Linked DNA regions of Homo sapiens. The protein of the gene in region 1 purifies or fractionates together with the protein of each later gene. This does not show direct contact. Each region holds a gene or a part of one and is shown on either strand. Other genes may lie near its edges.

Region 1 (7,988 bases):
GAGAACATAACACACCAGTGGCACTGGTTCAGCCTTGGCAACTATTCTTTTATTGAACATCAGTAACAGAAAGATGCTTGATTTAGGAGGAAGCTTTCCCTCCCTCCCTCCCCCATTGCACCCCGGAACTCAGCAAAGGTGAGCCAGCCACAGAGCATAACACTGTGGCTGGGACACATGTCCATGTGTGTTTCACATACGTGGGCATCTGTGCCACAAGGGTCATGTGGCACCACAGTTCATCAGCTGTGTTTCCCCTTCCTGCCCTGCTGCAGCGCCACAGGTTGGAGGAAAAGCCTGCCTGTGAGCAGGGTCCCGGCAGGGCCCACCCACCCAACAGTGGAGATCGGGCCTCAGAGCTGGGCAGTCATGGGAGTTCAGGGCCTGGCTCGCCTCGGCAGCCTGGTCTTAAAGAGGGACTTGCCCGAGGCCTCGATGTAAGTGACAGTCATCTCTTTGGAGCTGATCTCCACATAGGCAAAGCCACCCAGTGAGTCTTCAGTCCCATAGTGGAAGCGCAGATAGCCGTTGGGGACCTTGCGCTGGTGCCGCTTTGAGGGGTCCATGAAATTCCCAGCCCCACTCAGCACGTAGCCCACGCCATTCTCATCTTGCAGGTACTGAGGATGGAGGACAAGGGGTCAGTGGAGACCCAGCTTTGAGCAGAGCCCTGCCTAAGGTCCAGGGCTCGATCTGGCCCTAACCACAGAGTCACCTTGAGGTATGTAACCCCTCCTGGCTTCAATTTCCTGACTTTTAGGAGTGTATTAATCCTATTTCATAGGTAGAGCACTTAGTAAGAAATTGGTGGCCAGGTGTGGTGGCTCATGCCTGTAATCCCAGCACTTTGGGAGGCTGAGGGGGTGGATTGCTTGAGCCCAGGAATTTGAGACCAGCCTGGGCAACATAGTGAGACCTTGCCTCTACAAAAAAAATGCGCAAGGGCCAGGTGCAGTGGCTCATGCCTATAATCCCAGCACTTTGGGAGGCCGAGGCGGGCAGATCACTTGAGGTCAGAAGTTCGAGATCAGCCTGGCCAACATGGTGAAACCCCGTCTCTACTAAAATATAAAAATTAGCAAGGTTTGGTGGCCCATGCTTGTAATCCCAGCTACTTGGGAGGCTGAGACAGGAGAATTGCTTGAACCCAGGAGGCGGAGGTTGCAGTGAGTTGAGATCGTGCCACTGCACTCCCTCTCAAAAAAAAAAAAAAAAGCAAAAATTAGCTGCATGTGGTGGCCCATGCCTGTAGTGTCAGCTACTCTGGAGGCTGAAGTGGGAGGTTCACCTGAGCCCGGGAGATTGAAGCTGCAGTAAGCCCCGATTGCACCACTGCACTCCAGCCTGGGTGAAAAACAATGAAACCTTGTCTCCAAAAAAAAAAAAAAAAAAGAGCTTAAAAAAGAAAGAAAGAAAGAAATTGGCAATTCGAAGATATTATTCTGGCTTTGGAGTGTTTTCCTGGTTAGACAGCAAGATTTGAGGGACAGTCTAGACATTCTGAAGGCCACAGGAGACCCTCAAACAGCAGGAGGACCCCAGCCATGTGGACATCAGCTGGGATGGGGACCCCCCTCACCCAGCTCCCACCCCACCCACAGGGCCCTCACCTGCAGATTGTGATCGTGGCCGCACAGGTAGGCAGTGACCCCGTATGTGGCCAGCAGTGGCCGTAGCTGCTTGACCAGGCAGTGGGTAGGCCCGTGCTCGGCTATGGACCACACGGGGTAGTGGCCAGCCACCAGCACGTAGTCCTCCCTGGCCGCCGCCAGCTGTTTCTTGAGCCAGGACAGCTGTGTGCGGGCCAGCTTCACGTCTCGGGGCCTCTCAGGCTGCTGGCTGAGGAAGTCATCTGAGTTGCCACATAGTGTCACTGTGTCCAGCATAAAAATGGCCACAGACACATTGGTCTGTGGGATCTTGAAGTGCAGGCGGTAGAAAGGGCTGGGGAAGTTCCTGTGGAGGGGATAGAGGTCGTGGGTGCACATCTTGGGCGCAGAAGTCCCAGGGTCAGCTCAAGCCACAGGGCCCCTGTGTCCCTGCTATGTGAGGATCTCGGAAGGCAGGGCTGAGGGTGGCTCACCAGCGCTTGGAGATCTTAGAGTATGCAATCTGGGCAGAGACATTGCCAAGGTGGTCATGGTTTCCGGCTAGCACGTACCAGGGCACTTTGCGAAGGGAGCGGTCAGAGAATACGTCCTCAAAGGTCTCCTGTAGCAAACAGATAGGGCAGGCCTCTTCCCTGGGGTCAGTGGCTATGCCGATCCTCCCACCAAGTCAGGATAAGGGAGACACTGAATGCTCCCGGCGCCCAAAGGTGCCCCATCACCTTCCCTCTGCCCTCACCAAAGGAAGGTCACTAGGTAAGGCGGCTTCTCCCCACTGCCCGCCCCCACCTCCTGCCCCACTCTGTTGGGCACAGACCTGGAACCTCTTGTCATTGATGTCTTGCACACCAGTGAAGTAAAAATTGTCCCCTAGAGACAGGATGAAGTCTGCACCCAGGATCTGCACAGTCCGAGCGATCTCCTTGGCATTGGCCATTTCCCGGGCCGTGTGGAATGGGGCATTGGGGACCCCTCCCCAGTCACCCACGGCTACAAAGCGCAGGGCAGGGGTGGCACCATCAGCCAGGGAGGGTAGCAACAAGGCTTGCAGGATGAGCAGCGCCGTCCACATGTCCATCTGGGAGAAGAGAGACAAGCATAGGTGGCCCGGGCTGTGACAAGGGCAGGGAGGCCTTGAGACCCCCGCCTGCCCTGAGATAGAGGGAGACTGCTTGCTGCAGGCTGCCCCTGCGGGAACCCCTTGGTGCCCTAATTCTCAGGACACACAAGCTGCACAAGGCTGCACAAGCTGGCTTAGGGAAGGGGGGCGCGGTCTGTGAGAGGGCGAGCTGTACCAAGATGGCCCTGCAGGCCCATTTCACCCTCCTTCCACCTAGCCTGCCCAGCACTCACCCAGGGGGAGACACAGGCCAGTCACCGGAGGCTCTGAGAGGCTGGTGGGCTCTAGAGTAGAACTGCCGGTCCCTGAGCCTTTATTCCCTGAGGAGGAAGTGGATCATTAGTGAGGATGATGCAGTTTCTCCGAGGGCTGTCCCGGGAGCCCTCCCCTTGGGTCATGTGAGCCCTGGACTTCCCTGGAGCAGGACACGGGATTGGGGTGGGGGTGGGAGGATCTGGGCACACGTGTGCAGCAGCCTCGGCCCACACAGCCTCCGGGTGGACCTGCAGGGGCCTGTTTGTGCTGTAGGCTTGACACGTCCAGGTATCTCTGTGTGTCTGTGTATCTCAGTGTGAGTGTGTGTGTGTGTGCACACTTGAGAGGCTGTGGCTGTGATTACCCAAGACACATCTCCTGCACCTTCTTTCTCTGAGTAAGGGCTTACCTGTGTGTGTCTGGGTGTGTCTTGCTTCCTGCGTGCAGCTGAGCATGCCTACCTGGGCCTCGGCTCTGTACCTGATGGTGTTGCTGCAGACATGTATGCTGAGCCTGCGAGGCCTGTGTGGCTTGTCTGCGATGCACGCCTGTGTTCTCACGTGGCACTGGGTGGGAATCCCTATGGATGGAGTTTTGTGTGTGTCCATGTGTGTGTGCCTGGGTTGCATCTCTAGGATGGGTTGCGTGTCTGGTGTGGGAGCTGTGTTTGACAACATCTGGGTGGGGGACTCCGCGTGTGTCCCCGTCCTCCCCCTGCCCTCTCTCCATCCCACACATAAACACCAACGGGCTTCCCTTTTCCAGGAAGTCCTGCCCACACCCTCCCCTCCCCCCAGACTCCCATTCCTGCAGGAGGAACCAGGCAGGAGGCAGCTAGCTGGTGATAGCGCGCGTGACCACAGACCTCTGACCCTCATAGTCTCAGCAGCTGTCTGCAGGCCCTCCACGGGACCGCAGCCTGGGAGGGCAGGAGGCCCTGCACCTGCGGCCGGTCTGACCTGCTCCTCACCTCCCTGCCTGCCTCCTCCGTGCTGGGCGCCGCCGCGACACGTCCCGCGGACATTCAGGAGTCCCTTCAGTCCCTGCGAGCGCGGACCCGGGAGAGAGCTCTCATTCAACGCTGAGGCCACTGGCTCACAGATCTCCCCGGGTCACCCTGCGAAGTGCTTGGTCCCCCCCATTCCCAGCCCTGCAGCAGCAACAAACGGGAAGGAAGTGGGTGACGAGGACAGGCAGAGACCCCTCCCACGGGGCCGCCCGCATCTCACCTGCCGTCGCGGGGCGGGCGTTGCGGCCGGTGCCCAGCTGCAGATCCGCAGGCGATCGCACTCCTGGCGGCCCCAGCTTTAAGCAGGCAGCGGCCGATCCGCCCTGCTCGAGGGCTCAGGGCTGACCCAGGTGAGCCCCGGCGGGGAGGGCGGGCGCCTCGGCCTCCCCGCCCCGGAACCCTGCACCGCCCAGAGCCGCCACGCCTCCCGGCTGTAGGCTCCGCATCTGTAAAATGGGCCGATGAACCCCAAGGGTCGGCTCAGACCCACGGACTGCAGCTGCAGCTGGGCTAGAAGGGGTGGCCAGGGGAGCCGATTTCATCCTTTTCCTTCCTCCACGCCAACCAGGAGCCTCCATCTGCCTGGGACCCTTTGGGGGCACCCATGGGCCCACAGCCGCAGAACCACAGCACTGGGTGGGGTTTCAGCCCTGGGGCCAAGCTCTTGTGAGGTCTGTCATCATCTTCTCCTGTTGTTTTGTTTTTTTGTTTGTTTGTTTGTTTGGTTTTTTTTTTTTTGAGACAGAGTCTCGCTCTTTCACCCAGGCCGGACTGCAGTGGCGCGATCTCGGCTCACTGCAAGCTCTGCCTCCCGGGTTCTCGCCATTCTCCTGCCTCAGCACCCCCGAGTAGCTGGGACTACGGGCGCCGCCACCGCGCCCGGCTAATTTTTTGTATTTTTTAGTAGAGACGGGGTTTCACCGTGTTAGCCAGGATGGTTTCGATCTCCTGACCTCGTGATCCACCCACCTTGGCCTTCCAAAGTGCTGGGATTACAGGCGTGAGCCACCGCGCCCGGCCTGTTTTTGTTTTTTTTTTTTTTGAGACAGTTTTATTCTGGTTGCCCAGGCTGGAGTGCAGTGGCGCAATCTTGGCTCACGCAACCTCCGCCTCCCGGGTACAAGCGATTCTCCTGCCTCAGCCTCCCTAGTAGCTGTGATTACAGGCACGCACCACCACGCCCGGCTAATTTTGTATTTTTAGTAGAGACGGGGTTTCTCCATGTTGGCCAGGCTGGTCTCCAATGCCCGATCTCAGGTGATCTGCCCACCTCAGCCTCCCAAAGTTCTGCGATTACAGGCGTGAGTCACCATGCCTGGCCAGTCTCCTGTTTTTTTAAAAACTTATTATTTAGCCGGTGTGGTGTCTCACACCTGTAATCCTGGCACTTTGGGAGGCCGAGGTGAGCGGATCACTTGAGGTCAGGTGTTCCAGACCAGCCTGGGCAACATGGCAAAACCTTGTCTCTACTAAAAAGACAAAAATTAGCTGGAGGTGCTCTCTTGAACCCAGGAGGCAGAGGTTGCAGTGAACTGAGATCATGCCACTGCACTCCAACCCAGGAGGAGGAGGTTGCACTGAGCCAATATCATGCCACTACATTCCAGCCTGGGCGACAGAGCAAGACTCTGTCCCCCCCAAAAAAAAAACAGAAAAAAAAAAAAAGAAAGAAATCTGAAGCAATTATGACCAAATGTTAACATCTGTTTCTTCACGTGGTGGGTACAGGCGTGTTTTGGAAGCTTCTATGCTTCCTGTATTTTGAGATCACACAAAATTATGTTTATTATCTTATTGTGCTACATGATCTTTGTAGAAAAGTTGGTAAATTCTGGAATGCACGAAGAAAAAGATTATAATAGCCAGTAATACCCCTGCCCAGAGAGACAGTATCCATTAATTTTTCTCTGCCTATGTTTGTCTTCGGAAAAATGGGATACTATTGGCACTATTTTATAACTTTTTAATTTGTATTAACACTTTCTATATTTTTTAAATTGAAAAAGCTGGCCAAGCATGGTGGCTCAGGCCTGTAAACCCAGCCAATGTGGGAGGATCGCTTGAGCCCGGGAGTTCAGGAACAGCCTGGGCATCGTGGCGAGACCACATTGCTACAAAAAAAAAAAAAAAAAAAAAAAAAATTAGCCAGGCATGGTGGTGCACACCTGTGGTTCCATCTACTCAGGAAGCTGAGGTGGAGGATCGCTTGAGCCTGGGAGTTTGAGGCTGCAATAAGCTACGAATGCACCACTGACCTTCAGCCTGGGCAACACAGCTAGACTCTTGTCTCAGAGAGAGAGAGAGAGAGAGAGAGAGAGCACAATGAAAAAAATAAACCTGATCTTGCACAGAGCATGTAATAAAACCTGTGCGTTCTTGGCTATCTCTCTCTGGTCTCCTCCAGGGTGCTGAATAAGCTCTTCTCTCTCCATTCACCCAGGAGAACTCTCTTCTGCTGATTTTCTGTGGAGCTAGATCAGGCTGTGACTCAGAATCTCCCTCCACCTCCACCCTTTCCTATTTTCCCAACACCAGTGTCAATCTCAGATGTCAACAACCCCACGAGTGAGTTCCTCCTGTTGCCAATACATCCAGGTCCTGTTCTCCGCTGCTGTCTCTACCCAATCCCTTCCCTTCCTTCCTCCTGCCAATCCTGCTTTCCCTGTTTCTTGCTCCTCTGACCTCCTCCGCATTGCTTGACTGTCTCAGATACACTCTGGCCTCAGGGTCTTGGCACTTTCTGTTCTCCCTGCCTGGAAGGGTCTTCCTTAGTCAGATACTGAGGTCACCCATTGTGTTCAAGTTCCTTTAATTTATCTGAAATGAGTCTGGGCGTGGTGGCTCACGCCTGTAATCCCAGCACTTTGGGAAGCCAAGCCGGGTGGATCACTTGAGGCCAGGAGTTCGAGACCAGCCTGGCCAACATGGTGAAACCCCATCTCTACTAAAAATACAGAAATTAGCTGGGCGTGGTGGCACAAACCTGTGGTCCCAGCTACTCAGGAGGTCGAGGCAGGAGAATTGCTTGAACCTGGGAGGCGGAGGTTGCAGTGAGCCAAGATCGTGCCACTGTACTCTAGCCTGGGTGACAGAGTGAGACTCTGTCTCAAAAAAAAAAAAAAAAAAAGAAAAAGATAATTTATCTGAAATTATCTGAAATGCACCACCCTGCCCCCATCATTGACTCTCCTGTTGCTGTAGTTTTCTCTGCAGCACTTACCAGTGCTTGAGAAAACCACCCACTCATTTATCTTGCTTTCAGTTTCTCTTGCTTTCAGTCTGTCTTCAGTTAATGAAAGCTTTTTTTTTCTTTCTTTTTTCTTTTTCTAAAACAGAGTCACCCAGGCTGGAGACCAGTGATGCGATCACGGCTCACTGCAGACTCGACCTTCTGGGCTCAGGGGATCCTCCCACACCCCTTGGCCTCCTGGGGATTGAGACTACAGGCACACACCACCACACCCAGCTAATTTTTGTATTTTTTGTAGAGAGAGGGATTTGTCACCTTGTCCAGGCTGCTCTTGAACTCCTGAGTTCAAGCAATCCTCCCAACTCAGCCCCTCAAAGTGCTGGGATTACAGGTGTGAACCACTGCCCCTGGCCTGTTTATTTAAAAAATTAACATTCATTCTCAGTTTATTGGCTAAGTTTAGAAGTAGTATCAGAATGTTTAAGAGAACTTACTGTTCTCCTTTTATTTGTATGTTTGCATTGTAGATTTTTAATAACTGATAAGGACTTCTCAAGGTGTTTGCTTGGTGGAGACATTTAAAAAGATTAAAGAATAGGCCAGGTGCAGTGGCTCATGCCTGTAATCCCAGCACTTTGGGAGGCCGAGGCGGGTGGATCAAGAGGTCAGGAGATCGAGACCATCCTGGCTAACATGGTGAAACCCCATCTCTACTATAAATACAAAAAATTACCTGGGTGTGGTGGCACGTGCCTGTAGTCCCAGCTACTCAGGAGGCTGAGGCAGGAGAATCGCTTGAACCCGGGA
Region 2 (6,871 bases), on another chromosome or scaffold:
CAGGCGTGGTGGAACACGCCTGTAATCCCAGCTACCTGGGAGGCTGGGGCAGGAGAAGTACTTGAACCTGGGAGGCAGAGGTTGCAGTGAGCTGAGATTGCACCACTGCACTCCAGCCTGGGCGACAGAGTAATACCCTGTCTCAGAAAACAAACAACCAAAAAGCCACCAAAACCAAACAAACAACCCCACCCCCCAACAAAAACGTTACTCTGGTATATATGTTCATATATGCCTGAGTATGGAGGAATTTAATTATGTGAGGGTATATAATTGGGCATTGATAACAAATAGGTTATTTTAAAATCTAATATTTAACATAACAAAATTGAAATTAAAATATCAGTTTATCTGCGAGTAGAAATGGATTTTAAGGGAGTAAAGTGCAAAGAGAGGGACAGGTTAGAAGGCGACTTCAGTTATCCAGGTAAGAAAGTGGGACATGCAAGGAACTACTACACCAGTCGCTACGGTAACTATAGCCTCTTCTCAGGTCTCGTAAAGTGCTGCAGCCAGTCCTTTTGATATATCCACCCTTCCCAATTCCAAGAACTTGCTTCTCAGACATGTTTTGCTCTCCATTGCCTACAGAGCAAAGTCTATATTCCTTACCCTGGCATTCAAGCCCTGACATACTGTGGGCCAGACTCCCGCTTCAAACGTACTAAATCCTGACTTCAACCTTCCAAAAGATAGCACTTTCTTCTCCCACCCTCTCCTCCATTTAATCAACACTTGCCCAGCCCTCCAGACCTCCCCTCAAAGTCTTCCCTAACCACCCTGTTCCTTAGTGACCCCAATTCCTCTAAGTTCTTTCTATACTTAGGACATGGACCAGCTCTCAAAGAACAACCCCAGGTTCTTTTTTTTGAGACGTTGTTTCACTCTTGTTGCCCAGGCTGGAGTGTGATGGCGCGATCTCAGCTCACTGCAACCTCCGCCTCCCAGGTTCAAGCCATTCTCCTGTCTCAGCCTCCCGAGTAGCTGGGATTACAGGCGCATGCCACCACGTCCGGCTAATTTTTGTATTTTTAGTAGAGACAGTTTAATCATATTGGTCAGGCTGGTCTTGAACTCCTGTCCTCAGGTGATCTGCCCACCTCAGCCTCCCAAAGTGCTGGGATTACAGGCGTGAGCCACTGTGCCCGGCCCAACCCCAGGTTCTTTTCAAGCCATCATACTGCAGAGCAACTCTGTGTCATGACTATGTTATGATATGTATATGGTTGTGTTATGGTCTATGTTACGGATTAGCCTCAAGGAATAGCTATGTCATTTCTGCAAACTAAACTGACTAAACTGCAAGCTATTAGAAGGTAGGGCCAGTGCCACTTTTTTTCTTTTCTTTTTTTTTTTAGTAGTGACAGGGTTTCATCATATTGCCCAGGCTGGTCTTGAACTCCTGGCCTCAAGTGATCCTCCCACCTCACCTCAGCCTCCCAAAGAGCTAGGATTACAGGCTTGTGCCACCACACCAGTCCTTTATTTGAAAGAAAAAAAAAAAAAAGGCTGGGCACGGTGGCTCACACCTGTAATCCCAGCACTTTGGGAGGCCAAGGCAGATGGATTGCTTGAGGTCAGGAGTTCGAGACCAGCCTGGCCAACATGGTGAAACCCTGTCTCTACGAAAATACAAAAATTAGCCAGGCCTGGTGGTGGGTGCCTGTAATCCCAGCTACTCGGGAGGCTGAGGCAGGAGAATTGCTTTAACCCAGGAGGCAAAGGTTGCAGTGAGCTGAGATCGAGCCATTGTACTCCAGCCTGGGTGACAGAGTGAGACTCAGTCTCAAAAAAACAAAAAAATTAAAAAGTAGGCAGTGTGCAGTGGTTCATGCCTGTAATCAAAGGCGGGAGGATCACTTGAGCCCAGGAGTTGCGACCAGCCTGGACAACGTAGTGACATACTATCTCAAAAAAGAAAGAAAATACAAAAAATAAAAATAAAGCAAGAAGAAGAAAACCACCCAAAGGTATTAGCTGCTCTGGGTGGACCCCTCTGGTCACCACCATCCACCTATACTCTTAAGTCAATTCAATGTTCACACAACACACAGGACACATTTGTGATTCAGGGCGTCTTCGCCAGCTGTTACCTATGGTAAGAACTGCATGGTTCACTCCCTTACCTTCTTCAAGGCTTTATTCAATTGCCACTTTCTCAGTGATCTTCCCTGATCACTCAATTTAAAACTGCCCTCCTGCCCTCCTGACACCCTTCACCCAGTCTTTTTTCCACGGCACTTACTACTTTCTTTTTATTTATTTTTTTTGAGACGGAGTCTCGCTCTGTCGCCCAGGCTGGAGTGCAGTGGCGCGATCTCTGCTCACTGCAAGCTCCGCCTCCCGGGTTCACACCACTCTCCTGCCTCAGCCTCCCGAGTAGCTGGGAATACAGGCGCCTGCCACCACGCCCGGCTAATTTTTTGTATTTTTAGTAGAGACAGGGTTTCACCGTGTTAGCCAGGATGGTTTCGATCTCCTGACCTCGTGATCCACCCGCCTCAGCCTCCCAAAGTGCTGGGATTATAGGCGTGAGCCACGGCTCCCGGCCGGTACTTACTACTTTCGAACACGATTTCATGAATTACCTGAGGCTTATTGCCCGACTCCCCGCACTAGCTTGGAAGCTCCACGAGGGCAGGGAGTTTCATCTGTTCACCGATGGATCCCCAGTCCCTAACCCAAAAGCCCCAGCACGTCTCTTCCTACCCGCCCCGGCCTCCTGGCTCGGTCTTCCCGGGACACATCGCCCTTCCCAACACACGCGGTCACCGCGATCCACAGACCCCGTCCCCCGCCCGCCACGTGATTCCTTCTCCAGCCTCTCAGAGGTCGCAGACCAGACCTCTCCGGGCACGTCCCTCCCCGACGCGTCGCCGGGCTGCGCTGGAGCCGCTCACCGTCCGGGTCCTTCTCGTGGTAGCAGTGGTAGTTGCACTCCACCTCCATGTTCTCCAAAAAGGACTTGACCTGCTCCTCATCCTGGAAGTCCACCATGCCGGCCATGGTTCGCGCCGGCCCAAAGACGGTCACGTGAGCCGGCGGAGGGGGCGGGGCGGGGCGTGGGGCTGACGCCGACGCCAACCGCGGCGCTCTCCCGGGATCCCGGGGCGAGCCAAGCGAGCCTGTGCTTCCCAGCAGCCATCGCGCCGTTAAGGGCGCTGGCAGCCACGCTTCCAGGGCTACCGCCTTCCTGAAACTGGGGGCTGTCTCTCTGCAGCACCTTACCTATGCTCGCTTTGTAGCCTTAGTGATTTTCCACCTGCAGTCATTTATCTATGTATAATCCCTAAGCGCCTACTGTGTGCCTCACCAGTGCATTGTTCTAGGGATATGACAGCTAGGAATATGGTCCCTGCCTTCAAAGAACTTGGAGTTCAATAGGAAGACATTCGCTTATCCATTCAGCAAGCATTTAGAGGAGCTTCTATATGTGCCAGGTGTAGCTGGACAAAGTGCAGTGAGCAGTCTGATTCATCTGTCTTCTTCCCAGACCTGTCTTGGCCACCAACATGAATTACCTAAGCAATGAATGGCTATGGGAGATGTTGACTGGCACACAGTAGCAGTGAAGGGTGTAGCAACGTCACTGTTATAACACCTAGTACTCAAACAGTGCTGAACTTTGTTCCAGGCTCTAAATGCTTTATATGAATTAACTCATTTAATTCTCATTATATATCATGTCACTGTAAAAACACTCACAGTGACACTGTGGGTAGGTATTATTATTATCCCCATTCTACAGATAAGAAAACTAAAGTACAGAGAAATTAAGTAGTTTGTCCAAGGTCACACAGTAAGTGAGGGAGTTGGTATGCAATAATAATTTTTTTTAAAAAAATAAAAGAATGAATGAGGCCGGGCGCGGTGGTTCACGCCTGTAATCCCAGCACTTTGGGAGGCCGAGGTGGGTGGATCACCTGAGGTCAAGAGTTCGAGACCAGCCTGGCCAACCTGGTGAAACTCTGTCTCTACTAACAATACAAAATTAGCAGGGGTCTCTACTAAAAATACAAAATTACAGGGAGCACACCTGTAATCCTAGCTCTTTGGGAGGCTCAGGCAGGAGAATTGCTTTAACCTGGGAGGTGGAGGTTGCAGTGAGCCGAAATTGTGCCATTGCATTCCAGCCTGGGCGACAAGAGCGAAAAAGAATGAATGAGGTAGAAAAGGAACATGTCAAGGAGATGGGGAGGAGGAGAGGAAATTTACCTACATTTTGCTTTGTTTTCCTGCTCCTGTTCCTGCTAAGAATCATCAGTTCCATAAAGCTTAGATGGAAAGTTCTCCTAAGACAGCCACTTCCTATTCGTCTTTTTTTTTTTTTTTTTTGAGACGGAGTTTCGTTCTTGTTGCCCAGGCTGAAGTGCAATAGCGCGGTCTCAGCTTACTGCAACCTCCGCCTCCCAGGTTCAAGCGATTCTCTTGCCTCAGCCTCCCGAGTAGCTGGGCTTACAGGTGCCCACCACCACGCCCGGCTAATTTTTTTTGTATTTTTAGTAGAGACAGGGTTTCACTATATTGGCCAGGCTGGTCTTGAACTCCTGACCTCAGGTGGTCCGCTGGCCTCGGCCTCCCAAAGTGCTGGGATTACAGGCGTGAGCCACCACACCCGGCTGACTTCCCATTCATCTTTGAATTCCATCCAGCCCTACTTTTGAATTCTCAATGGAGCTAAATCCATGGCTTCCCATCGCCTATAACAATGCTTTCCAAATGGCTCCATTATTAAGCTATCCCCAATGGCAGCAAAGAATGGACTATTTCCAACCACTTATTTATTGGAAGGCAGCCAATAATGTCTGAAATCCCAGTTTTATTTTTTAAATTCATAGGATTTTACATTCATTTCCCCATAATACATCTTTCATAGGATAACAGAAGATTGCCTTTTCTCCCCCAAGCCTTTGAGTAAAATTGACATTCCAGGCAATATACCACATTTACCTGTGGTTTCTTATACCCTGATCACCTTAGGGGACTCCTCAGTACACATGGCCCAGGATGGGAATCCTTGAACTTTGGTTTGAGGTCATCTTCTTTAGGATGGCCTTCAAGACCCTGTGCAATCTGATTCTAGCCTTATTTTCTGCCTCTCTTCCCCCACATCCCACCAACCTTCTGTTCTCTGAATAGATCCCAAGTTTGTGTCCCTGTTTACCTCTGCTCTTGATGCCTGGACCACCCTTTTTGACACAAATCGGAAATACTCTCCTATGTAAAGTCTTCCCAGACACAACAATTACACACATTCAAATTAGATTTAGATGCTCCCATTTTGGTGTTCCACACCACTTGGTTTATTCTGGTATAGTGTAGTAGGAAAGAAAGAACTGGCTTTGGAGTGGGGACAGATCTTAGTTCAGAATCCATGTTCCATGTTTATTAAATTGTAACCTTAAACCAATCATGTTTGTGAGTCTGAATCCTCTTCTGTAAATGCAGATCCATTTGTAATGGCTGTCAGAAGGACTACAAGTTCATGTATGCAATGTGCTTGGCAGAGCGCCTGGCTCAAAGTCATTCCTGTTCCAGGAATGTTTCTTGTCATGCCAATAATGGCATGAAAGTCTGTGTTCCCCACCAGACTGTGACCTCTGTGTCCTGTATGCTGGTCACAGGGCCAAGAATAGAATAGGGCTTGATGATAGAATAGAGCAGGGTGATGTCGATTACTAAAATCTGGGAATGTTTCCCTTTATTTTCTGAGTTGAACTGCATTGAAATGAGATCACCTGAGCGGTAGAGGGCACAAGAGAGTTAGTTGGTGATGAGAGGCTCAACCAAGTAAGAGGTCACTTTTTTTTGTTTTGCTCTTTCATCCAGGCTAGAGTGCAGTGGCGTGATTTTGGCTCACCGCAACCTCCGCCTTACGGTTTCAAGCAATTCTCCTGCCTCAGCCTCCTGAATAGCTGGGATTACAGGCGCCCACCACAATGCCCGCCTAATTTTTGTATTTTTAGTAGAGATGGGGTTTCACCATATCGGCCAGGCTGGTCTCGAACTCCTGACCTCGTGATCCGTTTGAACTAACTGTTGCCTCTGCCCTAGAGTGCTTTTCCCCTGTATTTTTTTTTTTTTTTTGGCTTGCCTTCTTAAGTTCTCTGCTTCAATTTGACATCGTCCATGTGGTCTTAGCTCATTCTTGTTATAATAACAGTGTCTTGATTGTGCCCAGCAATATTAGGTGCCCAAGTATTGTTGACTGAATTAAGAAGAGGGATTATCATTCCAAATAATTTGGTTTTCATTAATGGAACTTAGAATATCACTGACTCTTGCTCTTTTGACCCAGGTTTTTCTTAAAGCTATAAGAAACATTAAATGAAGGTCTAATTGACATACAGGAAACTGCACATAACTTTAAAGTAACAATTATGAGTTTCTACATATGTATACACCTGTAAACCATTATCACAATCAAGATAATGAGCATATTCATCACCTCAAAATTTCCTCATGTGACTTTGTACTTCATTCCCTCCCCAGCAACCATTAATCTGCTTTCTGTCACTGAAGATGGGTTGCATTTTGTAGGATATTATCTAAATAGAATGATACAGTAAGTACTGTTTCTTTTTGTATAGTTTCTTCGATTCAGCATAATTATTTTGAGATTCATCCATGTTACCACACGTATTAATAGTTCATTCTTTTTCTTAGTGAATGACATTTCATGATGTAGATATATCACAATTTGTTTATCCATTTGGGTTTCCAGTTTTTGGCTTACAAATAAAGCTGCTGTGAATATTTGTGTACGTGTCTTTGTATGGGCATTCATTTCCATTTTTGGGGTTCATACCTAGGAGTGGAATGGCTAGATCATATGGTAGGTATATATCTAACTTTAAGAAACACCCAAACT
Region 3 (7,842 bases), on another chromosome or scaffold:
GTATTTTTAATAGAGACGGGGTTTCACCATGTTGACCAGGCTGGTCTTGAACTGCTGACCTCATGATCCGCCTGCTTCGGCCTCCCAAACTGCTGGGATTACAGGCGTCAGCCACCGCACCCGGCCATCACTGCATTTTTTAAGAACTTAGTTTTAGAATCAATAAATAACCTCAGAGCCTACATTCAATCTTGTCTCTATCCTTAACCACAGTCCCCAAACCCTGAAGTTGTGCTGCTGGCAACAGTAGTTACTGGAGGTTTTTTTTTCTTTCTTTTTCCACTTCTTTAGTCATACAACACCATGTAGCAGCTCTTTATTCCTGCTACTCACCTCAACTCTGGCACTCACACTTAGAATGTGTGCATGTTTGGGTACACATCTACTGAAATGCAGTACTTAAGAATATGTAGCTTGGGCTGGGTGCGGTGGCTCACGCCTGTAATCCCAGCAGTTTGGGAAGCCAAGGCGGGCGGATCACCTGAGGTCAGGAGTTCGAGACCAGCTTGGCCAACCTGGTGAAACCCTGTCTCTACTAAAAATGCAAAAAATAAGCCGGGCGTGGTGGTGGGTGCCTGTAATCCCAGCTACTTGGGAGGCTGAGGCAAGAGAATCGCTTGAACCCAGGAGGCGGAGGTTGCAGTGAGCCAAGACTACACCATTGCACTCCAGCCTGGGCAACAAGAGCGACACTCCATCTCAAAAAAAAAAAAAAAACAAATATGTGGCTCGTATCTTGAGGCTTCTAAGTATAGTGTTATTTTTCATTGGTTCATAAAGAACTTAAAAGTGATTAATTTTGCTGGGCACAGTGGCTCAAGCCTGTATTTTGAGCTACTCAGGAGACTGAGACAGGAGGATCCCTCGAGCTCAGGAGTTCGAAGCTGCAGTAAGCTATGATCACTATGATCGCACCATTGCACTCCAACCTGGGCTACAGAGGGATACCTCATCTCTTAAAAAAACTTTTTTTTAATGATTAATTTTGGGAAAGGGGGTATGTTACTCCTTTTAACATTTTCATTTACTAAGAGGCACTGTCTACGTTGCATTTCACAGTAAATAGATTTAGTTAAAATGGTGACATTCGTTTCATCTTTCATTGATAGTGGATGTTTAGCAATTACAGTACTTTTCTATCTGGCTTAGCATAGCACACTCTTTGTCTTACTCTTATCTCACTGGCTACTCCTTCTCTGTCTCCTTGACAGTCCTGTATCTTCTCCCGGATGACTCCCTCACATTGCTGCGCCACAAAGCCCAGTCCTCGCTGTACACTCAGCCCCTTGATAATCTCATAACTGAAGCTGAAGCATAATGTTATTTTTCATTGGTTCATAAGGAGCACAAAGATGATAACTTTCTTTTTAAGGTTTTCATCTACAAGGGGGCATTGTCTACACCATGTTTCAAGGTAAATATATTCCATTAAAATGGCAATATTCATTGCATCTTTTATTGATAGTGAATGTTTAGCAACTTCCAGTAACTTTCTCTCTAGCTTGTAGCATTCCACACTCTTGTCTGATCTCCTGGAACCAGTTCCCTCTGTTCTCCAGGATGGCTCCCTGGCCCAGGCACACCTCTGGGCCCAGTCCTTGCAGCTTTTCCTTCCTCCCCACTCCCTTCAAAACTGATCCTCCTGAGGTCTTTGCGATGTCAGGAAATGACAATTCCATCCTTCCAGTTGCTCAGGACAGAAAACCTTGATGTTATCCATGACTCCTCTCTTTTCCTTTATCCCTACCTCCAGGAAATCCTGTTGGCTCTTCCTCCAGAATATTTGCAAAGTCTAAGCACTTCTCACCATCTCCACTGTAGCCTCCATTCCATTCCATTCCATTCCATTCCATTATCGGAATAGTCTCCTAACCCATCTCCCTGCTTCTGCCCTAGTCCACCTAAATTCTGTTACTTACATAGCAGCCTGAGTGTCAAATCATATTGGTCCTCTTCACCAAAGCTTCCAGTGGTTCCCAATTTCTCACAGGCCAAAGACCTTACAATTGCCTACCAGGTTTTATACACTCTGGTCCCTAATTTCATTGAAGGCAAGGCTCAAATGATACCTCCTACTTTGATCATCCCAGTTAAAACTGGAACACCCTTCCCCAGCTCTGTTATTTTCCATAGCATTTATCACATCCCGATTTGGGGAATAGACGCCACAGAATTAGTCCAGGCTGACCACCACACAAACAACAAATCTAAAAATAGCAAACTCTACCACCACCTGGATTGGGAGTGGGTTAATACAGAGTCCAGAGTTGCTACAACATATTATCTAAAAGAAACAGGATGTACAAAGAAACAGCAAAGTGTGACCCATACTCAGGAAAATAAGGAGTCAACAGAAAACTACCTCTGAGGGTTCAGTGTTACTGTGATCAGTGCAATTATAGTTTTTTTTTGTCCTGCATTTTCACATAAGATTATATTAGAAACAATTTCATAAGTCATTAAAACTTCTATGAAAATAATATATATTTTTTTTGAGGCAGAGTCTCCCTCTTTCGCCCAGTCTCCCGGGTTCAAGCACTTCTCCTGCTTCAACCTCCCAAATAGCTGGGATTACAGGCATGTGCCACCACGCCTGGCTAATTTCTTCGTATTTTTAGTAGAGATGGGGTTTCCCGTGTTGGCCAGGCTGGTCTCGAACTCCTGACCTCAAGTAATCCACCCACCTCAGCCTCTCAAAGTGCTGGGATTACAGGCGTGAGCCACCGCACCCGGCCACATTTACCACATTCTAACAGGCCACATAATTTGCTTATTTATTTTATTACCTGACACATGTAATCCGTACAAGGGCTAGAGTTTTCATATGTTTTATTCACTGATGGATCCCCAGTGGGTAGAACAAGACTTGGCATGTACTAGGCACTTACACATACTTATGGAATGAATAAATAAATAGTATAGTAGATTGCAAACCAACAATTTGTGGAATTAAGTAGGAATAAAAATACAACTATGTGAAGATCATTTACTATGTTAATATAATTACATGGTACAGTGGAAAGATCATGGGGTGGCTGGGTGCGGTTGATCACGCCTGTAATCCCAACACTTTGGGAGGCTGAGGTGGATGGATTACTAGAGGTCAGGAGTTCGAGACCAGCCTGGCCAACATGGGAAAACCCATCTCTACTAAAGTTACAAAATTTAGCTGGGCGTGGTGGTGTGTGCCTGTAGTCCCAGCTACTTGGGAGGCTGAGGCAGGAGAATCACTTGAACCTGGGAGGCAGAGGTTGCAGTGAGCCAATCACGCCACTGCACTCCAGCCTGGATGATAGAGGGAGACTCTGTCTCAAAAAAAAGAAAAAAAAAAAAAGTAAAAAGAAAAGTGATTACCAAGACAACTACCACAGACTGGGAATTTCTGAAAAGCCTCAACTTTTCTTTTCTTTTTTTTTTTTTTGAGACAGCGTCTAGTTCCGTTGTCCAGGCTGGAGTGCAGTGGTGCAATCTCGACTCACTGCAACCTCTGCCTCCTGGGCTCAAGCCATACTCCTACCTCAGCCTCCTGAGTAGCTGGGACCGCAGGCCCGCACCACCATGCCAGCTAATTTTTTGTATTTTTAATAGAGACGGGGTTTCACTATGTTCGTCAGGCTGGTTTCCAACTCCTGACCTCTAATGATCCTTCCGCCTCGGCCTCCCAAAGTGCTGGAATTACAGGCGTGAGCCACCACGCCTGGCCTCAATTTCTTAAAAAGCAAAAACAGGAGGGAGGAGGAGGGTATGCAGTATCCTAAATCCTCAGAACCCCTGGGGAAGAACCTCATTCCAACTCCACCAGCACTCCCAGGCCCAGGCTTCTAGCATGCTTCCGACCTCGCTAGCTGCTAAATAAATAGCTATTGAGGAATGTGTATTCTCAAATACTTAGGCTAGAGGGCTAAGAAAAGACAGCTTCCATCTACCTCTGTGGGACTCTACCAGTGTGAAAGGATACTCTCAAGGTATTTAACAACTCCCATTACAGTCCAGAAATTGGTGGGGAAAGTTAAAATATATTTTCTTTTCTTTTTTTTTTTTGAGACGGTGTTTTTGCTCTGTTGCCTGAGCTGGAGTGCAGTGGCTCACGCTTGTAATCCCAGCACTTTGGGAGGCCAAGGCGGGCGATCATGAGGTCGGGGGTTTGAGACCAGCCTAGCCAACACAGTGAAACCCCGTCTCTACTAAAAATACAAAAGTTAGCTGGGCACGGTGGCGAGCGCCTGTAATCCCAGCTACTCGGGAGGCTGAGGCAGGATAATCGCTTGAACCCGGGAGGCGGAGGTTGCAGTCAGCCGAGATCCACTGCACCCCAGCCTGAGCGACAGACTCCATCTCAGAAAAAAACAAGCAAACAAAAACAAAACAAACAAACAAACAAAAACAAGAAAAGAAAAGTTAGCCGAGCATGGTGGGGCACGTCTGTGGTCCTAGCTATTCGGGAGGCTGAGGTGGAAGGATTGCTTGAGCCCGGGAGGTCAAGGCTGCAGTGAGCTGAGATCATGCCTCTGCCCTCCAGCCTGGCCGAGAGTGAGACTGTCTCAAAAAAAAAATAATAATAATAACATAAAAATAAGAAATAAGAGTGAAAGAGGCATCATTGATTGAAGATAACTTGGGGAGGGGTTCATATAGTAAACGTATAGATTGATTGAAAGACACAGCCCAGTTTTAAAACTACATAAATATCCAAAAAAGCACATTTGAAATTCCACGAGACCTTGCAATGTCAAAATAAGGAGGGACGGGAAGCACGGTGATCACACAATGGCTTATGACATACACTCACTACATTTATACCTGGTACAAAGAGCGCAGAAACGTTTCAACTCTTGCTTGAATCAAGAACAGAAGCCTCTCTTTAGACAGGTCAGTGCCACATAGTAATGTATAGCTTAAAATGTTAGTTAATGTACAAAAATCCAAACTCAGCGTTTAGATGTTCGGGAATAATGCATGAACATTTAAATATTCAGAAGTGGAATGTATGCATTTTTAAAGTTTATTTTATGATTTAATTTTAAAAATTTGTTTTAATGTGAAATTCTGGGGTAATTTGTCATGTAGTAATAGATACAAATATGGCAAGCAGGGATTTTTAAATAATGAACAGAAATATCTTAAAGGAGCTATTGGAAAAGATGGAAAGAAAGTGTGAACAACTTGGGAATTTCAGTGTCTTACAGTTTTTTTAAAGCTTGTTATAGTTTAAATCGGAATAAGGAAGCGTATTTCCAAAAGATTGAAGTGATTGTGTTATCTCTCCCACGAAGTAGTCTACTTCAGCAAAACAGTACACCGTGTGCTATTTTGGCCTCTTGGGAAAGATGGTATGTTCAAGTTTGCTAGAAAGAGATAATTATCGCTTTTAGCGACACCTCTCACGGAAAGTTCATCGGGATATTGGTCTAGAGAGAAAATGGCGGCGGGGGGTGGGGGTGGGGGAAGCCGAAATACCTCAGTTTAGGATCTGCTATGGGCAATGGATGCCCTAATTTAAGGTTAATTGTAGATCCACGGGCTTCCAACTGTGTATTTCCGTCATCTACACTTTTCCCAGAAAGAGATGCCATAATAAATTTACAAAACAGTCCTATAGTCTAGTTTTATATTCTTGTCAAGAAAAGGTAATATTTAAAAAGTACTAGCTAGAATTCTATAAAAAACGAACAACAAAAATCACTGCCCTCTGAATGTTCGTTCTTGATTATTTTGACGCAAGTAGAGACAGCTTTTTTAAATCCGGCATTATCTCCGGGTGGTGCAGACATGCAATTTTTTATGAATTTTCCCACCCTTGGGAAATCGATTTCTGAAACGTGTAATTGTTGTGCAGTAAGCCAAGTGGACAGTGACGCAATAGTCCACTGCAAGTTGCCTTACAAAAAATGATGTCATTTGGCGCAGATCTAGTCACTTTTATAACAGGTAGCTATGGAAAAGCTCCCTCCACGTTGTCCCCGATTCCCCCACCCCCACCGTGGCCAAGATGCAAAAAGACACTTTCCTGGCTTCCTAGCCCTCAACTTGTCGAGGGTGGGCGCACCGCAGTGGCTCAGGGCCCATCGCTCGTGCAGGCGGAGAGAGACCGCTGCAAGGGGACGAGGACAGCTGAGTGTCCTCAGCCCCGACGGCGGCGCCGCGGGGGAAGCTGCGTCGGGCCCAGTCCAGGGCCGCGACGCCCGGCCGCCTGTTTTCCTCGGTGGGAAACCGCTGGCGTGGCGGGCCGGCAGCCGGGACGCGGGGCGCCGCGGGCGCGGGACAGCCTTCCCCGCCCCCCCTTCCCCCCCGTTCCCACACCCGCTCCCGCTCCCGTGGCGCCGGAAGTGACGCGTTTTGGGCTGAAAGATGGCGGCATTGGCGCTCGACCAGGGGGAAGGTAAACACCCGCCAGGCCACGGGCTGGCCCCCTCGGGGCGCCAGCAGGGGCCGAGGGGGGGGCCTCCCGGGCCAGCTCCCCGCCCCCAACGGCTTCCCACCCTCCGCCCTCTCTCCCAGCGTGGCGGCCTTCCGCGTCAAGACGACAGCGCACTGGGCCCCCTGCCGGCCAGCCCCGCCTCCCTGGGCGGGCCCCGGGCGGCTCCCGCGGCCCGCAGGGGGCGCGCGGCCCGGAGCGGCCCCCGGCTCGTGGCCCCGCACGCCCCGCCCCTTCCCCGCCCCTTTCCCGCCTTCCTCCACCCCCGGCGTGGGTGATCCCGAGGCTCGGCGCGCTTCGGGGCAGAAGCCCAGAGACGCCGTCCTCGACGCTTCCTCGGCTGGTGCTTCTGTCTCTGCCTGCTGCCCCCCAGCCCTTTTCCCCGCCCGCGGCCCCAGTCGGCCCTCCCGCCGAGCCCCGTCGGGTGCTGCGAGGCCCCCGGCGTTGGCAAGGTCGGTCCGGGCCCCGACGCCGCGCCGCCTCGTGCGGAGCCCGACTGTCTGGTTTCTCGACTCAGCGCTGTCTTCTTTCCCAGGACTTATCCAGAGGGGGCTGCAGGCGAGCACTCTCGTGCCCCGCCGGAGCGACCCGGCTCGTGCCGGGAGCGGCTGCTCGTAGACGTCCGAGGAGCCTGCCGAGTGCCGTCCCGGCGCCCGACCGCCCACCCATCGGCCCGCTGGCCCGGTTCTTCCTGATGCAGACTGCCGTCCACTAGAGGCTGGACAGGACCCCCCGAGGTACGTAGCCGCCCCTGGCCGCCGGCCTGCGGAGCCCGGGCTTCGCCCGCGGCCCCGAGCTAGGCACGAATTCGCCGGCCCTCTCTGCACGGACCCGAGTCAAACATTTGGTAGACGCCGGGACCTCGTTTGTCTTCGAGTTTACTTAAATTGTTTGAAATGTAATTTTTTTTTCCAGAGAGAGCGAGAAAGAAAAAGGAAGAAGCATAATTCAGCCATTTTTTGCAGCACACAGCTGCAGGTACCATGATTATTTTTTGCCTAACCCGTTCCTTCCCTTTAACAATTCAATTTATGCCTGAAATAGAACTATGCAAAATGCGAGGCATAAAACTAGGAATCGGAAGGTCTGGGTTCGACTTGGGTGACTCTGAGAAAAAATCGCGTACCGAGCCTTGGTTTCTTATCTATGAAATATAGTCGGTACTACCAACATCGCAGGGTTGAGAGGACTATATGAGGTCATATATGTGAAAATAATCCTTAACTGTAGAGTGTTGTAAGAATGCAAGGCCGTTTTTTAAGTAACCTTTGGTAGAGTGGTTAATGTAGTGGCTAACTGTTGCTGCCTCTTTATTTCTATATTATAAATATAAGCAAATAAGTACGGAATAATAGTAAAGCAGTGCTGTGAATCCATAGATCTGTAATAGTCACGTTGCTTGGCCTTCCTCCTACGAAGTGCTAACT
Region 4 (7,000 bases), on another chromosome or scaffold:
GTTCTTCGCGGTTGTAAGTGAAAAAAATTCTAATTTCTATAAGACAGAAATTAGCTTGAGCAAAAAGGAACAATGTTTCTGGCTTAGGTTAGTGGGAATATAAGAGATACAGCTGGACCCAGGGGATACCATTTCTTAGAGAGGCTCCATCTCTCACTACAGTGGGCACCAGGTACCCACAGCCCCAGCCTCCCTGCACAGTGACTTCCAAGGAAGGGCAGTCACCTGTGTCTGCGGTAGCAGAACAGTTTCTAGTGGAAATGCTGGTTAATCTGATTGTGGTCACGTGCACGTTTCTGAAGCAATCCCCTGGCCAGGGATAAGGTGTTCTGACTGGCTAGGCCTAGGCAGGCCAGCTCTACCCAAACCACATGGAAATACATTTCCCCATGGAAGGCAGGGGGGTGTTCCCAGGAATGGGGCTGAAGGCTGGATCCCAATACCCTAGCTGGTGGGGGTGCCCGTCTCCTCCCTCCTCAAAGCCCCCAGGGCAGGTGCTGTGAACTAAGCCCTTGCCTACCTTAGCTATTTCTTTGTTTTTTTTTTTTGTTTTTTTGTTTTGTTTTTGAGATGGAGTCTCGCTCTGTCACCCAGGCTGGAGTGCAGTGGCGCGATCTCGGCTCACTGCAAGCTCCGCCTCCTGGGTTCACGCCATTCTCCTGCCTCCGCCTCCCGAGTAGCTGGGACTACAGGCGCCTACCACTAGGCCCGGCTAATTTTTTGTATTTTTAGTAGAGACAGGGTTTCTCTGTGTTAGCCAGGATGGTCTTGATCTCCTGACCTTGTGATCTGCCCGCCTTGGCCTCCCAAAGTGCTGGGATTACAGGTGCAAGCCACCATGCCCGGCCCGCGTTGGCCGTTTCTGGGCAGCCTCAGACGTGACACTGGCACAAGGTGTCTGCCTGTTTGATGACCATGTTCTCTCCCCACCCCCTTTCTTCATTTGTTGTGTTTTTCTCTCACAGAGATCAAAATGCACATTGAAAAATAGAGCCAGGCTGGCATGGTGGCTCACACCTATAATCCCAGCACTTTGGGAGGCTGAGGTGGGGGGATTGCTTGAGTTTAGGAGTTCAAGACCAGCCCGTCATGAGACCTGTGTCTCTGTAAACTATAAAAAAATTAGCCGGCCGGGCGCGGTAGCTCACGCCTGTAATCCCAGCACTTTGGGAGGCTGAGGCGGGTGGATCATGAGGTCAGGAGATCGAGACCATCATGGCTAACACGGTGAAACCCCGTCTCTACTAAAAAATACAAAAAATTAGCCGGGCGTGGTGGCAGGCGCCTGTAGTCCCAGCTACTTGGGAGGCTGAGGCAGGAGAATGGCCTGAACCCAGGAGGCGGAGCTTGCAGTAAGCCAAGATCGCGCCACTGCACTCCAGCCTGGGCGACAGAGCGAGACTCCGTCTCAAAAAAAAAAAAAAAAAAAAAAAAAAAGAAATTAGCCAGGCCTGGTGGCATGCACTTGTAGTCCTGGCTACTTAGGAGGCTGAGGTGGGAGGATTGCTCGAGCCCAGGAGGTAGAGGCTGCAGTAAGCCTTGATCATGCCACTGCACTCCAGCCTGGAGCAAGCTGCTTTAAAGTCTGATTTTGTTGCTTGCAGCAGTATTAAGAAGATTTTACTGAGGACAGTAAATGTCCCTAAATCCTAAAATCTAAAACCTGGTACTCTCACTGTGTGGCTGATGTGCCTTTTTTGACTACAAAAAAATTTTTTTTTCTGATTTTAAAAATAATTCGCTCATTATATAACGTTTTGAAAATACAAGGACACAGACACATGAGAAGATAAAAATCACCCATAATCCCATTACCCAGAGATAAACACTGTTTACATTTTGACCTAGTTCTTCTTGTGATCCTTTCTGGATTTATACAATCTTTAAAAATAAAAATCGGAATCATGCTACATGACAACACGAACACTTTCTGTCTCTAAGCAGCCCTCCCCAGCAGAGCTCTTACAGGGCTTTATCAGTGGACATGTGTCCCCTAAAATTTATGAAAACTTGTGTATTTGCATATTTTATAGAGAGTCCTTATTTTCGCTGAGTGAGACACTTTTTTTGGTTTTTTTTTGAGAGGGAGTCTCGCTCCGTTGCCCAGGCTGGAGTGCAGTGGCGCAATCTTGGCTCACTGCAACCTCCGTCTCCCAGTTCAAGCAATTCTCCCGCCTCAGCCTCCTAAGTAGCTGGGATTACAGGTGCCTGCCACAACGCCTGGATAATTTTTTTGTATTTTTAGTAGAGACAGGGTTTCACCATGTTGGCCAGACTGGTCTTGAACTCCTGACCTCAGTGATCCGCCTGCCTTGGCCTCCCAAAGTGCTGGGATTACAGGCGTGAGCCACCATGCCCAGCCAGGGTTTTACATGTATTTGGCTTTTCTTTTTTCTTTTTTTTTTTTTTTTTTTTTTTTTTTTTTGAGACAGTGTCTCACTCTGTCACCCAGGCTGGAGCGTAGTGGTGTGATCACAGCTCAATGCAGCCTCAGAACTCCTGAGCTCAAGGAACCCTCCTCCCAAAGTGCTGGGATTACAGGCGTGAACCAGCGGTATGCCCAGCCTTGGTTTAAGAAGCTGCCTACATAAAGGATACACTCTGGCCAGTGATAGCACAGCCCTTGTCATTGACATTTGTTTGCTTTTTAATTTTCTTATATCTTTCAACATGTAGAAGTTTTAAATTTTTATGCAATCGGATCTATCAGTTTTTTCCTTTATGATTTCTGGCTTTGATGTTATATGTTGCAATGATCTTTCCCAACCCAAGATTAAATAGTTGCTCTCCCCTTGTAAAATAAGTATTATTTTATTTATTTATTTATTTATTTTCTGAGACGGAGTCTTGCTCTTTTGCCCAGGCTAGAGTGCAGTGGCGCGATCTTGGCTCACTGCAACCTCCGCCTCCTGGGTTCAAGCAATTCTCCTGCCTCAGCCTCCCGAGTAGCTGGGATTACAGGCGCGTGCCACCACACCCGGCTAATTTTTTTTTTTTTTTTGTATTCTTAGTAGAGATGGGGTTTCACCATGTTGGTCAGGCTGGTCTTGAACTCTTGACCTTATGATGTGCCTGCCTTGGCCTCCCAAAGTGCTGGGATTACAGGCGTGAGCCACCGTGCCCGGCCCTATTTTATTTTATTTTTTGAGACCGGGTCTCTCTCTGTCACCCAGGCTGGAGGGCAATGGTGATCTCGGCTCACTGCAACCTTAACCTCCTGGGCTCAAGGAATTCTCCCACCTCAACTTTCCAAGTAACTAGGACTATAGGTGCACACCACCATGCCTGACTAATTTTATTTTATATAGAGACAAGATCTCACTATGTTGCCTAGGCTGGTCTTGGACTTCTAGGCTCAAGCGATCCTCCTGCCTCAGCCTCCCAAAGTGCTGGGATTATAGGCATGAGCCACTGCGACTGGCCCCCTTTTTATTTATTTATTATTTATTTTTGAGACAGCGTCTTGTGTTGCCCCAGCTGGAGTGCAGTGGCAGTCATGGTTCACTGCAGCCTCGACCTCCTGGGCTCAAGCAATCCTCCCACCTCAGCTTCTGAGCAGCTAGGACTACAGGCATGTGCCACCAAACCCAGCTAATGTTTTTTATGTTTTGTAGAGATGGGGTCTTGCTGTGTTGCTCAGGTTGGTCTCAAACTCCTGGGCTCAAGCAGTCCTTCTGCCTTGAGGACTGGGATTACAGGTGTGAGCCACTATGCCCGGCCTCCCTTTTTAAAGTATATGGTTTTTATTTTTATGCCTGAATCTCTGGTAGTTCAGCTAGAATTCATTTTCAAGTAAGGTAGAAGGTGGAAGCAGAAGGCGTTTCTTCTCCAAGTAGACAACAAATTGTTCTGACATAATTTGTTGTATAATCTATGCTTTTCAATACCAATTTATCAGAAGCAGAATTCTTTTTTTTGAGATGGGGGTCTCACCCTGTCACCCAGGTTGGAGTGCAGTGGCGCTATCTTGGTTCACTGCAACTTCTGCCTCCCAGGCTCAAGCCATCCTCCCACCCCAGCCTCCTGAGTACCTGGGACCACAGGTGCATGAGCCACCATGCCTGGCTAATTTTTTGTATTTTTGCTAGAGATGGGGTTTCCCCATGTTGCCCAGGCTGGCGAAGCTGAATTCTTACCAATATTTGAACCTGTTTAGGACTTTCCATTCTTTCCCACTGATACACTGTCAGGATGTACATCACACTACACAGTTTTATCTATTGTAGCTTGTGGTTTTCATTTTAAAGGTTGGTATCCCCAGTGCTTCATTCCCCTTCCCCCTAAAGTTTCCTGGGTTATTTCTGCTTAAGTACTCATCCAGATGAACCTCAGAACCATTTTGTTAAGCTTCCCTAAGAGATCCTGTGGGAGTTGCTATTGGAATGGATTACACTTATGGAGCGCTCTCAGACAGCTGCTGTCTTTCTGGCGTCACATTGTACTTGCTTTGACTGTTGTCATTCAGGGAGCCTCCACCAAGGCGCTGGTGCAACACCTGCCAGCTCTACTACATGGGGGACCTGATCCAACACCGCAGGACACAGGACCACAAGGTAGGAGGGCCTGCACGCTGCAGAGGCACCCGCACTGCCGTCTGCAAGTGGAGTCCAGACAACACAGAGCCCCAGTTGGAAAGTAAACGTTCCTCTTTGCCCCTGCACACCCATAACCCACAATGCAGTTTCTGGAGGAGTCAGTCTTGTTTCTTCTTCGGGCTTCAGGTTCCCCATCTGTCCAGTGTAGGCCAGGCCCCATCTCACCTGCCATTCAGCCACGGGGCTCACAGGGGTTATTTGGGCAGCTGCCCTCTCTCTCGTCTTCTCTCTGTGTCTGTCCTGTCTCTGTGTTGCCATCTGCCATCCTATCTCTCAGCCACCCACACCACGAAGAGATGTGTTTGCCCACGTTCCAGTGCAGGGGTGGAGCACAGCCCGGCTTGTTACAGATATGGTGGGCCTGCCCGGGGGAGGTGAGCTCTTGCTGGGCCCTGCCTGGGTGCTAGTCAGGGGGCTTGCAGCTGGGGACACTGCTTGGTTGGCCTGCCTTTTTCCAGATTGCCAAACAATCCTTGCGACCCTTCTGCACCGTTTGCAACCGCTACTTCAAAACCCCTCGCAAGTTTGTGGAGCACGTGAAGTCCCAGGGGCATAAGGACAAAGCCAAGGAGGTAACCTGAGCTCCCTCAGAGGACATGGGCCCAGAGAGGTACAGAGCCTTGGCCAAGGCTGTGTAGCAAGTTGAGGTTTATCCCAGCCCAAACTCACAGCGGGTCTGGAGGGATTGGGACTCTCAGGGGAGGGGTGGGGTGGGTAGGGCATGGCCCCCTGGCTGTTCAGAGCTGACCTGAGCTCCTTGCCTACTCCCTGGGCAGCTGAAGTCGCTTGAGAAAGAAATTGCTGGCCAAGATGAGGACCACTTCATTACAGTGGACGCTGTGGGTTGCTTCGAGGGTGATGAAGAAGAGGAAGAGGATGATGAGGATGAAGAAGAGATCGAGGTTGAGGAGGAACTCTGCAAGCAGGTGCTGGGGGGAGGGTGTGGGAGGCGGGCTTGGTGCTGGATTCCCAGCCCAGGACAGACCTCATCCCACCTCCCGGAGGCCAGACACTGGGCTGGCATCTGTGGGCACTAATGCATGCCACAACTGATTACTGTCAACTGCCTTCTGCATGACTATGTAATTATGCATGATGACTAGAGAGTGGCAGTTAAAATATGCAAAGCCTGACTGAAATTTGGACCTGTGTGGAGGAAGGGAAAGGGAACAGCATCAGTAAAGGCACGGAGGTGGGAAACTATGTAGTGTGCAAAGGAAAAGTCAGATGATGGTGATGATAATGGAGAGACTGACAGCAGCAGACATCTTTTTGAGCACTTAGTGTGTTCCAGGTGTGTGTACCAAGCACTATCCTGGCTGAATCTCATCAGATTGGATGGCAGGAAGTAAAACTTCAGAGTCCATGTTTCCAATGCCGCAGCTACCCTGTCTCTCATGAATGAGGAGCTGGAGGAGCTTGGATTCGTTGCAGTTTTTTTTTTTTTTTCTTTTTTTTTTTCAAGACGGAGTCTCGCTCTGTCGCCCAGGCTAGAGTACAATGGTGCGATCTCAGCTCACTGAAACCTCCACCTCCTGGGTTCATGCGATTCTCATGCCTCAGCCTCCCAAGTAGCTGGGATCACAGGTGCCCACCACCACGCCCGGCTAATTTTTGTATTTTTAGTAGAGACGGGGTTTCACCATATTGGCCAGGCTGGTCTCGAACTCCTGACCTCAGGTGATCCACCCACCTCGGCCTACCAAAGTGCTGGGATTACAGGCGTGAGCCACCATGCCCAGCCAGATTCTTTGCAGTTTAACACGTTTCCAGAGAGTGTGTTCTAGGTCAGGCCCTGGTGCTGGAAGCAGGGACCCATGAGGGCCAAGGCCTGGTCCTTGCCCTCAAAGGCTGACCCAGTTATAGTCCAGGGTGGTGAGGGGCCAGCTGGGGCTGCTCATAGCCTCTGGCAGCCAAAGTGGGGTATTGAGGGGCTGGGGAGGAAGCGTTGTGGTGGGGGGGCCTGCAGTCCTAGGCAGGGTAGTATGAGGCCCAGCTTCATTGCTCAGTAGTCACATCATCTCAGGCAAGCCACTTGGCCTCTCTGAGCCTCAGTTGCCTCTGCTCAGAAGTAACAACCTGAACTTGGACTATCAGGGAAGCCCAGGGCCCACAGCTTGGTCCTAGGAAGGGCTTAGCAAACGGGGGTGGTTGTCCTTCTTGGAAGCCACATTTGTTTGCCTGGTGAGTGGTGGAGGGCACTGCTAGGCCTGCTAGGGCTGACACGGCCAGAGTCAGATGACCTCATCTCACATCCAGCAGGTGAAATGCAGTCTTTGATCCCTTGAAACCCACCCTCTAGGACCAAGGTCACTGCAGTATTGGATAGGACCTCAGGGAGTTAGCAGGGGGCTCATGGTTAAGAGTGTGAACTACGGCTTAGACCTACAGGGTTCCCTGCCCAG

The links.
Region 2: the proteins of ACP5 (region 1) and COA7 purify together in Homo sapiens (affinity purification with mass spectrometry; 2 studies listed by BioGRID and IntAct, with this or other methods). This does not show direct contact.
Region 3: the proteins of ACP5 (region 1) and KLHL15 purify together in Homo sapiens (affinity purification with mass spectrometry; 3 studies listed by BioGRID and IntAct, with this or other methods). This does not show direct contact.
Region 4: the proteins of ACP5 (region 1) and CIZ1 purify together in Homo sapiens (affinity purification with mass spectrometry; 3 studies listed by BioGRID and IntAct, with this or other methods). This does not show direct contact.

The regions. Positions count from the first base shown.
Region 1 is NC_000019.10:11,574,633-11,582,620, forward strand, and holds ACP5 (tartrate-resistant acid phosphatase type 5 precursor), read right to left. Parts: upstream 3,014-7,988; 5' UTR 2,961-3,013; intron 2,686-2,960; coding exon 2,425-2,685; intron 2,212-2,424; coding exon 2,084-2,211; intron 1,957-2,083; coding exon 1,611-1,956; intron 722-1,610; exon of another isoform or gene 621-721; coding exon 378-620; 3' UTR 28-377; downstream 1-27. UniProt on the Homo sapiens protein: Involved in osteopontin/bone sialoprotein dephosphorylation. Its expression seems to increase in certain pathological states such as Gaucher and Hodgkin diseases, the hairy cell, the B-cell, and the T-cell leukemias.
Region 2 is NC_000001.11:52,695,321-52,702,191, forward strand, and holds the start of COA7 (cytochrome c oxidase assembly factor 7), read right to left. Parts: upstream 3,028-6,871; 5' UTR 3,007-3,027; coding exon 2,901-3,006; intron 1-2,900. UniProt on the Homo sapiens protein: Required for assembly of mitochondrial respiratory chain complex I and complex IV.
Region 3 is NC_000023.11:24,024,167-24,032,008, reverse strand, and holds the start of KLHL15 (kelch-like protein 15), read left to right. Parts: upstream 1-4,822; 5' UTR 4,823-4,869; intron 4,870-6,950; 5' UTR 6,951-7,152; intron 7,153-7,842. UniProt on the Homo sapiens protein: Substrate-specific adapter for CUL3 E3 ubiquitin-protein ligase complex.
Region 4 is NC_000009.12:128,167,573-128,174,572, reverse strand, and holds part of CIZ1 (cip1-interacting zinc finger protein), read left to right. Parts: intron 1-4,465; coding exon 4,466-4,553; intron 4,554-4,872; coding exon of another isoform or gene 4,873-4,950; intron 4,951-5,053; coding exon 5,054-5,167; intron 5,168-5,371; coding exon 5,372-5,521; intron 5,522-7,000. UniProt on the Homo sapiens protein: May regulate the subcellular localization of CIP/WAF1.